3 separate regions of the Homo sapiens genome follow, and all the other regions are linked to region 2. The links come from fine-mapping of genetic effects on gene expression. A gene starts in region 2. Each other region holds a variant in brackets. All regions are shown on one strand. Distances are from middle to middle.

What was found. PIP is the estimated chance that this variant, and not a neighbour inherited with it, causes the effect. A credible set is the group of variants that fine-mapping cannot tell apart.
Region 1: its variant is the best candidate, but not a certain one, in a credible set for the expression of UROS in whole blood (INTERVAL, PIP 0.64).
Region 3: its variant is the best candidate, but not a certain one, in a credible set for the expression of UROS in whole blood (INTERVAL, PIP 0.54).

The regions. Positions count from the first base shown.
Region 1 is chr10:125,918,778-125,921,538 of GRCh38, forward strand. All of the region lies in intron 1 of FANK1 (fibronectin type III and ankyrin repeat domains 1), which reads left to right. Among named protein-coding and RNA genes, the nearest start is that of FANK1, 24 kb to the left of the region's middle. The variant T/C (reference allele first, on the strand shown) is at 994.
Region 2 is chr10:125,822,129-125,824,889 of GRCh38, forward strand. It overlaps UROS (uroporphyrinogen III synthase), which reads right to left and starts at 1,130. Exons shown (of 10, transcript NM_000375.3): 1 at 901-1,130. BCCIP (BRCA2 and CDKN1A interacting protein) reads left to right here and starts at 1,418. Exons shown (of 7, transcript NM_078468.3): 1 at 1,418-1,594. The coding sequence starts at 1,430. RefSeq lists silencers at 777-1,206, 1,963-2,182 and enhancers at 1,058-1,743, 1,287-1,486.
Region 3 is chr10:125,779,004-125,781,764 of GRCh38, forward strand. No RefSeq gene overlaps it. Among named protein-coding and RNA genes, the nearest start is that of MMP21, 4.6 kb to the left of the region's middle. The variant A/G (reference allele first, on the strand shown) is at 1,515.

The DNA of each region.
Region 1 (2,761 bases), 97 kb after region 2:
TTTATTTGAAGTCTTACATAGGCTTTATAATGTTATTCATGCACTCTTTATGCCCTAGATAGTTGGAGAAATTGCAGGGGAGAATCTCAGAAATAACTAAAATAATTGAAGATGTAATCAAGAAACAGAAGTACGTTTGAATAGAGACCAACTAAAGATGGCTGGGACTGGTTCAGTCTACATATAATTGAAAGGTAAATCACTAGGAAAGGGAAGGAGTCTCTGGGTTTCAAGATGAAATAGAAGTCATGAGAATTCTATAAATTTAAATTCAAGTTCACTGAAGAGAGCTAGGAGTCAGCTACTGTTTGCTACAGATAATATTCAGTAAGGAGCTAACTGCTAATGCATTGGCCTGGGGAAGTGTTTAATGTCAAATAGAAACCAACACTAGTAAAATACTTCCAGGAGGTAAGAATTTTTTTTTTTTTTTTTTTTTTTTTTTTGTGACAGAGTCTTGCTCTGTCCCGCAGGCTGGAGCGCAGTGGCATGATCTTGGCTCACTGCAACCTCCGCTTCCCGGTTTCAAGCAATTCTCCTGCCTCAGCCTCGCTAGTAGCTGGGATTACAGGCACACACCACCACACCCGGCTGATTTTTGTATTTTTAGTAGAGTTGGGGTTTCACCATGTTGGCCAGGCTGGTCTTGAACTCTCGACCTCAGGTGATCCTCCCCCCTTGGCCTCTCAAAGTGCTGGGATTACAGGTGTGAGCCACTGCGCCTGGCTGCTGCTCCTTTTTTTGTAATGGACCTGGGAGATCTTTATGAATGAGGGAAAGACTCATTTCTTTGAATAAGGCAGAATACTAAAGACTAGCCAGCCCTGAGGCTCATGGTGGTTGCTGTTATTCTGTTGAACGTGAACCCTAGCCTTTAGAAAGGAGCAAGTCTTTGTGGAATACACAGGATTTGAAGTGCATCAAAGGGGTGGAAACGCAGCTGACCATGATACCCTCAAGTGAGTTTTTCCACTGAATTTGATTATTTTCTCA[T/C]TTGGCACTTCTTTCTGGGCTTTCTAAGCAGCCCAAAAACTCTAGATGATTTTACTTTTGTAATTGTATTCTCTTGGGAATGCTCATTCCTGATTCCTCGTTTCACCAAACAGTAGGTGTGTAACCTTCTTATTTGTTTCTGCCTATAGTAATTCTGGAGTCTTTAAACAAAACGACTGTGACTTTTCATGATGAGTAGAAGATAGGTTTTACTCATGCTACAATCAATATTAATTCCTTGCAGTTCAAAGACACTGAGGCCCTGTCTAATAATACAGAGGTTGAACTTGGACTTGGGAGATGACTCCTGTCTCTCGTACTCTCTGTGGCTCTGCTTTCTGTTATTTTACTCATAAGCTTGTTTTGTCTCCTTGCTGAGAACTGTCAAACATGAAATGTAATTTCAGGCTATAGTGAAGAAGGATGACATAGGCCGAAAAAATTGGCAATCATTTGGCCTGTACATGTTGCTTTTATTTTTTTTCTGGACTTAAGATATAGACCAAACCTTGACATTTCTGGCCTTTGAGTCTTTCACAACTGTGATTATAATACATTAGCTCTTCTAGAAGTTAGAAGTGACTTTGGATTAAGTCTTTCATAAGGTGGCTAAATGAATTTATATGGCTCATCAGAATTCACTAGATTGGTTAAGCAGGAAATTTACAGAGATTTTTTTCTTTGCTGTAAATGTTTTTCTAAATTGAAAAACTTCTAATACTGTCTTCTGGAATACTAGAAATAAGTGCAAGTGATTGTTTTTGGCAGGAGGCCACATAAACATTTCTGCTTCTCTGTGACTTATGGGTAGCATTGATATAAATTGTTAAAAATAATGATCGTAGATAGATAATGTATCAGAGTTTGGGCTCAGCCGCTGTAGCTGCTGTTGACCCAGAGGAACCACTGGGATCCTCACATCTCAGGGCAGCACATCGTTTGCAGCAATGGTTGGTTCTGTACAACCTTTTATGAAATTAGGTGAGGCCCTTGATTAGAATTTGTTTTTTAAAAGGTTTAATATGAGTTTATATCTCTAAATATCAGTTTCTAATTTTTTTTAAAAGCCTATGTTTACAACAAATTTGGGAGATACCTATATGCACTACTAACTAGTGTTCTTTTGTGGTGCTTTAGAAATTCTGGCTTACTTGTATTTTTGCTGGCCTTCTAATGATTTCACTCATCAATCAGAAGATATTTGTGTCCACCTTCCTGCTTCCTCTCCGGTGATCTTGTCTATTCTTGGCCATTTTAGAGTTGACTTAGCAGCCTTCACAAAACTGGTTGGAATTTCCACTGGGATTAAATTGATAGGTCATTTTTGGGAGACCTTTGCAATATTGAACTTTCCAATCCGTGAACTTATCTGCCCATGTATTATGTTTGTTTTTGGTAGATTACAAAATTATATGATCACTCCAAAAATTACCTTGCCCTTTATAGTAAAACCTTCCATTGTAAACTTCTGGCAATCACTGATCTGTGTTCCTCTAGCATTGCTTTTTTTTCAGAATTTTATACAAATGGAATCGTTCAGGCTGTAGCCTTTGAGTCTGGCTACTTTCATGTACTGTATCAACAGTTATTCCTTTTTATTGCCAAATAGTAATCCATTGTATAAATACTACATGGTTTGCTTATTGGTTTGTCATTGGAGGAATATGGACTATTTTCACTTTTTGGTAAATTATAAGTGGATTGGAATTCACAAAGTGCTTTTTGTCTGAGCATAGGTTTTCATTTCACTTGTGCAAATGACTAAGGG
Region 2 (2,761 bases):
CCGCAGATCTTATTCCTAGAAAGCTGATGAACCCTGTTTCTCTCGCAATGGGAAGACCTGGCTGCCCCAGGCTGCATCCCCACCTGCCACAGGGGCTGGCGCTCGCTCTGCAGTTGGCCGCAGTCCCCTCCACTCTTCTCTCCAAATAGGCTCGGGTCTTTAACCTAGACTACCCCACTGGCCCCGAAGCATTTTTTTTTTTTTTTAGATAGGGTCTACCTCTGTCGCCCAGGCTGGAGTGTGGAGTGCGGTGGCGCGATCTCGGCTCACTGCAACCTCCGTCTCCTGGGGGCATGCGATTCTCCTGCCTTAGCCTCCTGAGTAGCTGGGACTACAGGCGCGCACCACCACACCTGGCTAGTTTTTGTATTTTTAGTAGAGATGGGATTTCGCCATGTTGGGCAGGCTGGTCTCGAACTCCTGACCTCAAGTGATCCACCCATCTCGGCCTCCCAAAGTGCTGGGATTACAGGTGTCCGCCACCACGCCCGGCTAATTTTTGTACTTTTAGCAGAGATGAGGTTTTGCCATGTTGGCCAGGCTGGTCTCGAACTCCTGACCTCTGGTGATCCACCCGCTTTGACCTCCCTAAGTGCTGGGATTACAGGCGCGAGACACCGGGCCCGGCCCCCCGCCGAAGCATTTTTAACTGCGGTGCCGGCTTTAAAAAAACTTTTAGGTCAAGAAATGCGCTCCAGAAGCTCGGCGAGGGTAGGCTGGGCAGGCGCCTTCCGTCACCGGCGCAGCGGTAGCGGCAGCGGACATCCCCGCCTGGGCAGGCCCAGGTCCGCGGAAGCCTCGGGGCCCTGGCCCCACTGTGTCACACACCGCCCGGGGCCGGGCCCCTGCACGCCCGCGGGCTTCGGCGTCCGTACCGGTACAGCGGGCGGCGACACCTACCTCGCGGGACCGTGCCCAGCACCCGGCCTGGCACACAGCGGGCACCCGGTCGGGGGGCGGTGTCGCGCAGTCCCAGCGAAAAGGCTGCAGGAGCAATGACAACAGGGGCGGAAGCCCCCTCCCCACGCAGCCCGAGGGGCCGCGGCGGCCACCCGCGCCGGGCCCCAGGACCCCGCACCTCAGACTGGGGTCGCGTGGGTGGCTGCGCGCAGCTAGGCGCTCGCGCATGCGCACCGCCATCCAGGCCACGGAATGAGGCCAGAGGTTAGATGGGTTGAACCACTACGGGAAGGGGAGGGGAAGCTTTGGGAGGAGTGATGGAGGGTGGAAAGCGGAAGAAAAAAGCAAGATGGGACCGCAAGCTGGACGTGACTGTAAGGGGTCATGGCTGCGGAATCCAGCAGGGGCATTGGGGTTGACGTGCACTCAGCGCCGAGCTTCTTCGTAGTTCCTCACCCCCTTGGCTACTATGGGCTGGTCCGGAAGGTCAGGCAAGGGGAAGCTGCGCAGGCGCAGTGTGAGCGGCAACATGGCGTCCAGGTCTAAGCGGCGTGCCGTGGAAAGTGGGGTTCCGCAGCCGCCGGATCCCCCAGTCCAGCGCGACGAGGAAGAGGAAAAAGAAGTCGAAAATGAGGATGAAGACGATGATGACAGTGACAAGGAAAAGGATGAAGAGGACGAGGTCATTGACGAGGTGAGAAGGACACGCTCCCCTAGTTGGTTTATACCTGAGAAAAACTTTTTGGCAAGCCCAGGCTGTGTAAAAATAGTGTAGGGTCTTCCCTGACCCTGAGGGTCTGTGAGGAGAAACTGGAGATAAGTTCTTTCTCAGGTTTCTCCTCGGTCTTTAACACACTGCAGCCATAGTAGTTATTTTTTAAAGGTCTAGTCCGGTCCAGTTAATCTCCCAACCCGCGTCCTCCCCGAAAAAGCCCGCCACAACAGGTGTGTTCTTCTCGTCCTCTTTAGTTCTCAGGCTGAAGCCTCAGATCCTGAATCGGCCACCCCGGGCTCGCAGAGGGGGCCCTCTCCCCTCGGGGCAGCAGCTGTCCTCCTCTTCACTCTGCGGGCGGCACTCACTTGGGCCCTCAGTTTCTTGAAGGCTCTTGCCGCGTTCTACCGTAGAAGCCTTTTCAAATGCTCTTCTTTATCCTGCAGTTTTCCCTTCCTTCTTCAGATCTCAGCTAGGCTGTATTTTCTGGCTCCTGGGGCAGCTGACCAAGTCGTGGGTAAATCTTTGGTTTCATAGTCTCATAGAACTGTGTTCCTTTCTTCAGACTAGGTCCTACCGTAGTGCCTGGCAATATAGGTACTTATTATTTGTTTAGTAAACAATTAGGACTGAATGATCCTTCAGCCTACTGAATGTTTAAATAGATACCTCAGCCTTAACTTGTCCAAAGCAGAATTTGTATAATAATTCATGCCCCTCTCTTAATCGTCACCATTTCTATAAATGGCCCCTAAAGTCACCAGCTGCTCTAACCCAAAACCTGGGGCTTAACTTTAATTCCTCCCTTTCCTCATCCTATATCCAGCCCATCAGTAAATCCTGTTATCCAGACATTTCTCAGCACTAATTCTGAGACCATCGTAGTCCACACCTCTATCATCTCTTGCCTGGACTACTATTTAATGTAACAGCTTTTAACCGGCGTTCTTTTCTCCATTTTTGTTCCCCTACAATCAGTCTATACTCCACTTACAGTCAGAGAGATCTTATAGGTCTGATCTCAGGCCTCTGCTTAGATTGCTGCATTGGCTTTCTAGTTCATTTACAAGAAAATCAAGAGTCTTCACAATTGAGGGACGGAAAGGCAGCCTAGATGGCTGGATCAGAATAAGGAAGAGAGAGTGATAG
Region 3 (2,761 bases), 43 kb before region 2:
TGTTTTTCTGCCTGCTTTGTATTCTAGGAGCTGATTAGATGGTGCCCACCCAGATTAAGGGTGGGTCTGCCTGTCCCAGCCCACTGACCCAAATGCTAATCTCCTTTGGCAACACCCTCACAGACACACCCAGGATCAATACTTTACATCCTTCAATCGAATCAAGTGGACACTCAGTATTAACCATCACACCTACCCTCATGGAATGTAGATCCTAAGTAGGGAAGACAGACAATAAACAAAAAAGAAATGAAAAATTCCAATAGTGACAGGTGCTAGGAATAGAATTAGGGAAAGTGAGTGTCTATGGGGAAGAGTGAATGTTCAGGTGAGCAGGAAAGACCTCTTGTGCAGATGAAATCTGGGCAGTAGCAGAAAGATCAGAGGGACTCAGTCACATGTGACTGGGGGTTCGGGAGTGGTGTACATTTTAGGCCAGGAAAGGGCAAGTGCACAGGCCCTGAGGCTGGGACTGGCTGGGCAAACCTACAATAGTAGGGAAGAAAGAACAGCCTGGCTGGACATGAGTGGGAGGAGTGAGCTGGGAGGGGAGGATGAAGAGGAGCAGGTGAAGGTCAGATGGGGAAGGACCCATAGGGCAAATAAGGAGTCTGGGTTCACTGTAAGTTCAGGTGGAACATTTTGAGTGGACAATGCCAGGACTGGCTACTTATTAAAGAACCTCTGTGCAGTTCTGAGGTTGGTGTAGGCTGTGCCTCCTGGGGTGAAACCCTCTGGCTATCATCAACTCCTCTCTGTTTTTCTGACTGTGCCGCACCCTAGAACACTTTCCTGGGCTCTAGGACACCGGGCTTTCCGGGGAAGGCACAGTCCTACACTGTGACCCAGGGGATCCATTCCTCATTGGGCCCACACCGAATGCTGTGGGGGAAAGGTGGGACCTGGGATGCTGGGAAGGGGTGCTCAGGAGGAGCTTGGGCACCCACCACGATCCTTGTTCTGTTTGAAGACTGGCAGTTCTGTCCATTCCACCAGCTCTGGTCAAAGACTGTGCTTCTGAAAGTCAAATCTGAAAAGTTGCATGACAGCTCTCCCCAGTGGGGTAAGATGATTCCCCTTTGGGATTACTGTGGCTTAAACGTTTGTGTTCCCTCCACAATTCATGTTGAAACTTAATCCCCAGTGCAACCGTATTAAGAGGTGGGGCCTTGAGGAGGTGATTGAATCATAAGGCTCTACCATCCTGCCCTTAGAAGCCAGGCTTCAGAGAGCATTCAGCCCTTTGCCCGTCTGCCATATGAGGACACAGTGTTCAAGGCACCATCTGGCAACAGAAACCAGGCCCTCGTCAGACATCAAGTCTTGCTCTTGGACTTGCCAGCCTCCAGAACTGTGAAAATTTTTATTATTTATAAATGACCCAGTCTCAGGTGTTTTGGTATAGCATCACAAATGGACTAAGACAGAGATCACAGGCTTGAGGGCTTCATTACTGAAGGGTCTTGTTCCCTAAAGTTATTATTCTTTAAGAAACTTTATGGTGCGGTGGCCTC[A/G]TGCAGCTTGGGTGCTTGACTTGGGGAAGTATGTTCACCATGTGGATGTTTGCTCTTCTTTTGGAGGATTCTTCTCTCCGATTATTACTAAGCTTTGGAATGTACTGGCTGCTCAAGGCTGAGAATGTTTGATTAACCAAATTGCTCACTCCAGGTTAATTGGATTTCAAGGAAATCAATTGGATTTAGGAGGGAAAATGTCAGAGGAAGACACGTGACCTACAATAAAGACAACATGAGGGACAGGGGCTCCCGCACAAACTGGTTCCTGGTCTGTGCAGACCACCTCCCGTTCCTGAGGCGGGGCAAGGCTTTGGCTTGGAGCTTCTACAATCTCTGTAAGCCATGACATGCGTAACCTAATTGTCAGCGGGAGAACTGAAGTTTTTTTCCCCTAAAACATTCATCATTTACAAAGTGGATTTGCTTTTTTTTTTTTTTTTTTGAGATAGGGTCTCACTTTGTTACCCAGGCTGAGGAGCAGTGGCACAGTCACAGCTCAACTGCAGCCGTGACTTCTCTGGCTCAAGTGATCTTCCCACCTCAGCCTCCCGCAAGTAGCTGGGACTACAGGTGTGAGCCACCGTGCCCAGCTAATTTTTGTATGTTTTTGTAGAGGTATGGTTTTGCCATGTTGTCCAGGCTGGTCTTGAACTCCTGGGCTCAAGCAATCTGCCCACCTCGGCCTCCCAAAGTGTTGGGATTACAGGCATGAGCCACTGCACCCAGCCTGGATTTGCATATTCTTAGTATAGTTGGACAATAATATTTGGAAACAGTCATTCCCACAGGAGATCTTTGAGCCTTATGTTCAATGAGGGGTCAGTTCTGACTCTGAAAGTGAGCAGAGCTCAGGGGGCCCAGGTGCTGGGGAGTGATGCCATCAGCACCAGGGCAGGCCTGTTGTTTCCAGCTGCATAGCGTGCCTGAGACAGAAAGACCCTTCCCAGTGTCTGTCCTGATTCCCTTCTTTCCAGACTGCATTTTGGTCTCTTTTCATCCACAAATAAACCCTTTTCCCCATCTCTGGGCCGGCATAGGACCCTCGGCCTCCCTGGGGAGAACTGCTTGTGTTTTACACACATGAGAGTCTGCGTTTGGGGCTTGTTCCTCCCTGCAAAGGATGCACATGGAGGCTGCTCAGTGGTTGCGGGAGGGAGGCCCCGCTCACTACCCACCTGCACTTCTCTGCCAAGGCACACCCAGGCCTCCTGGCCTCCGGATGAGAATTATGCTCATCGTTGCTG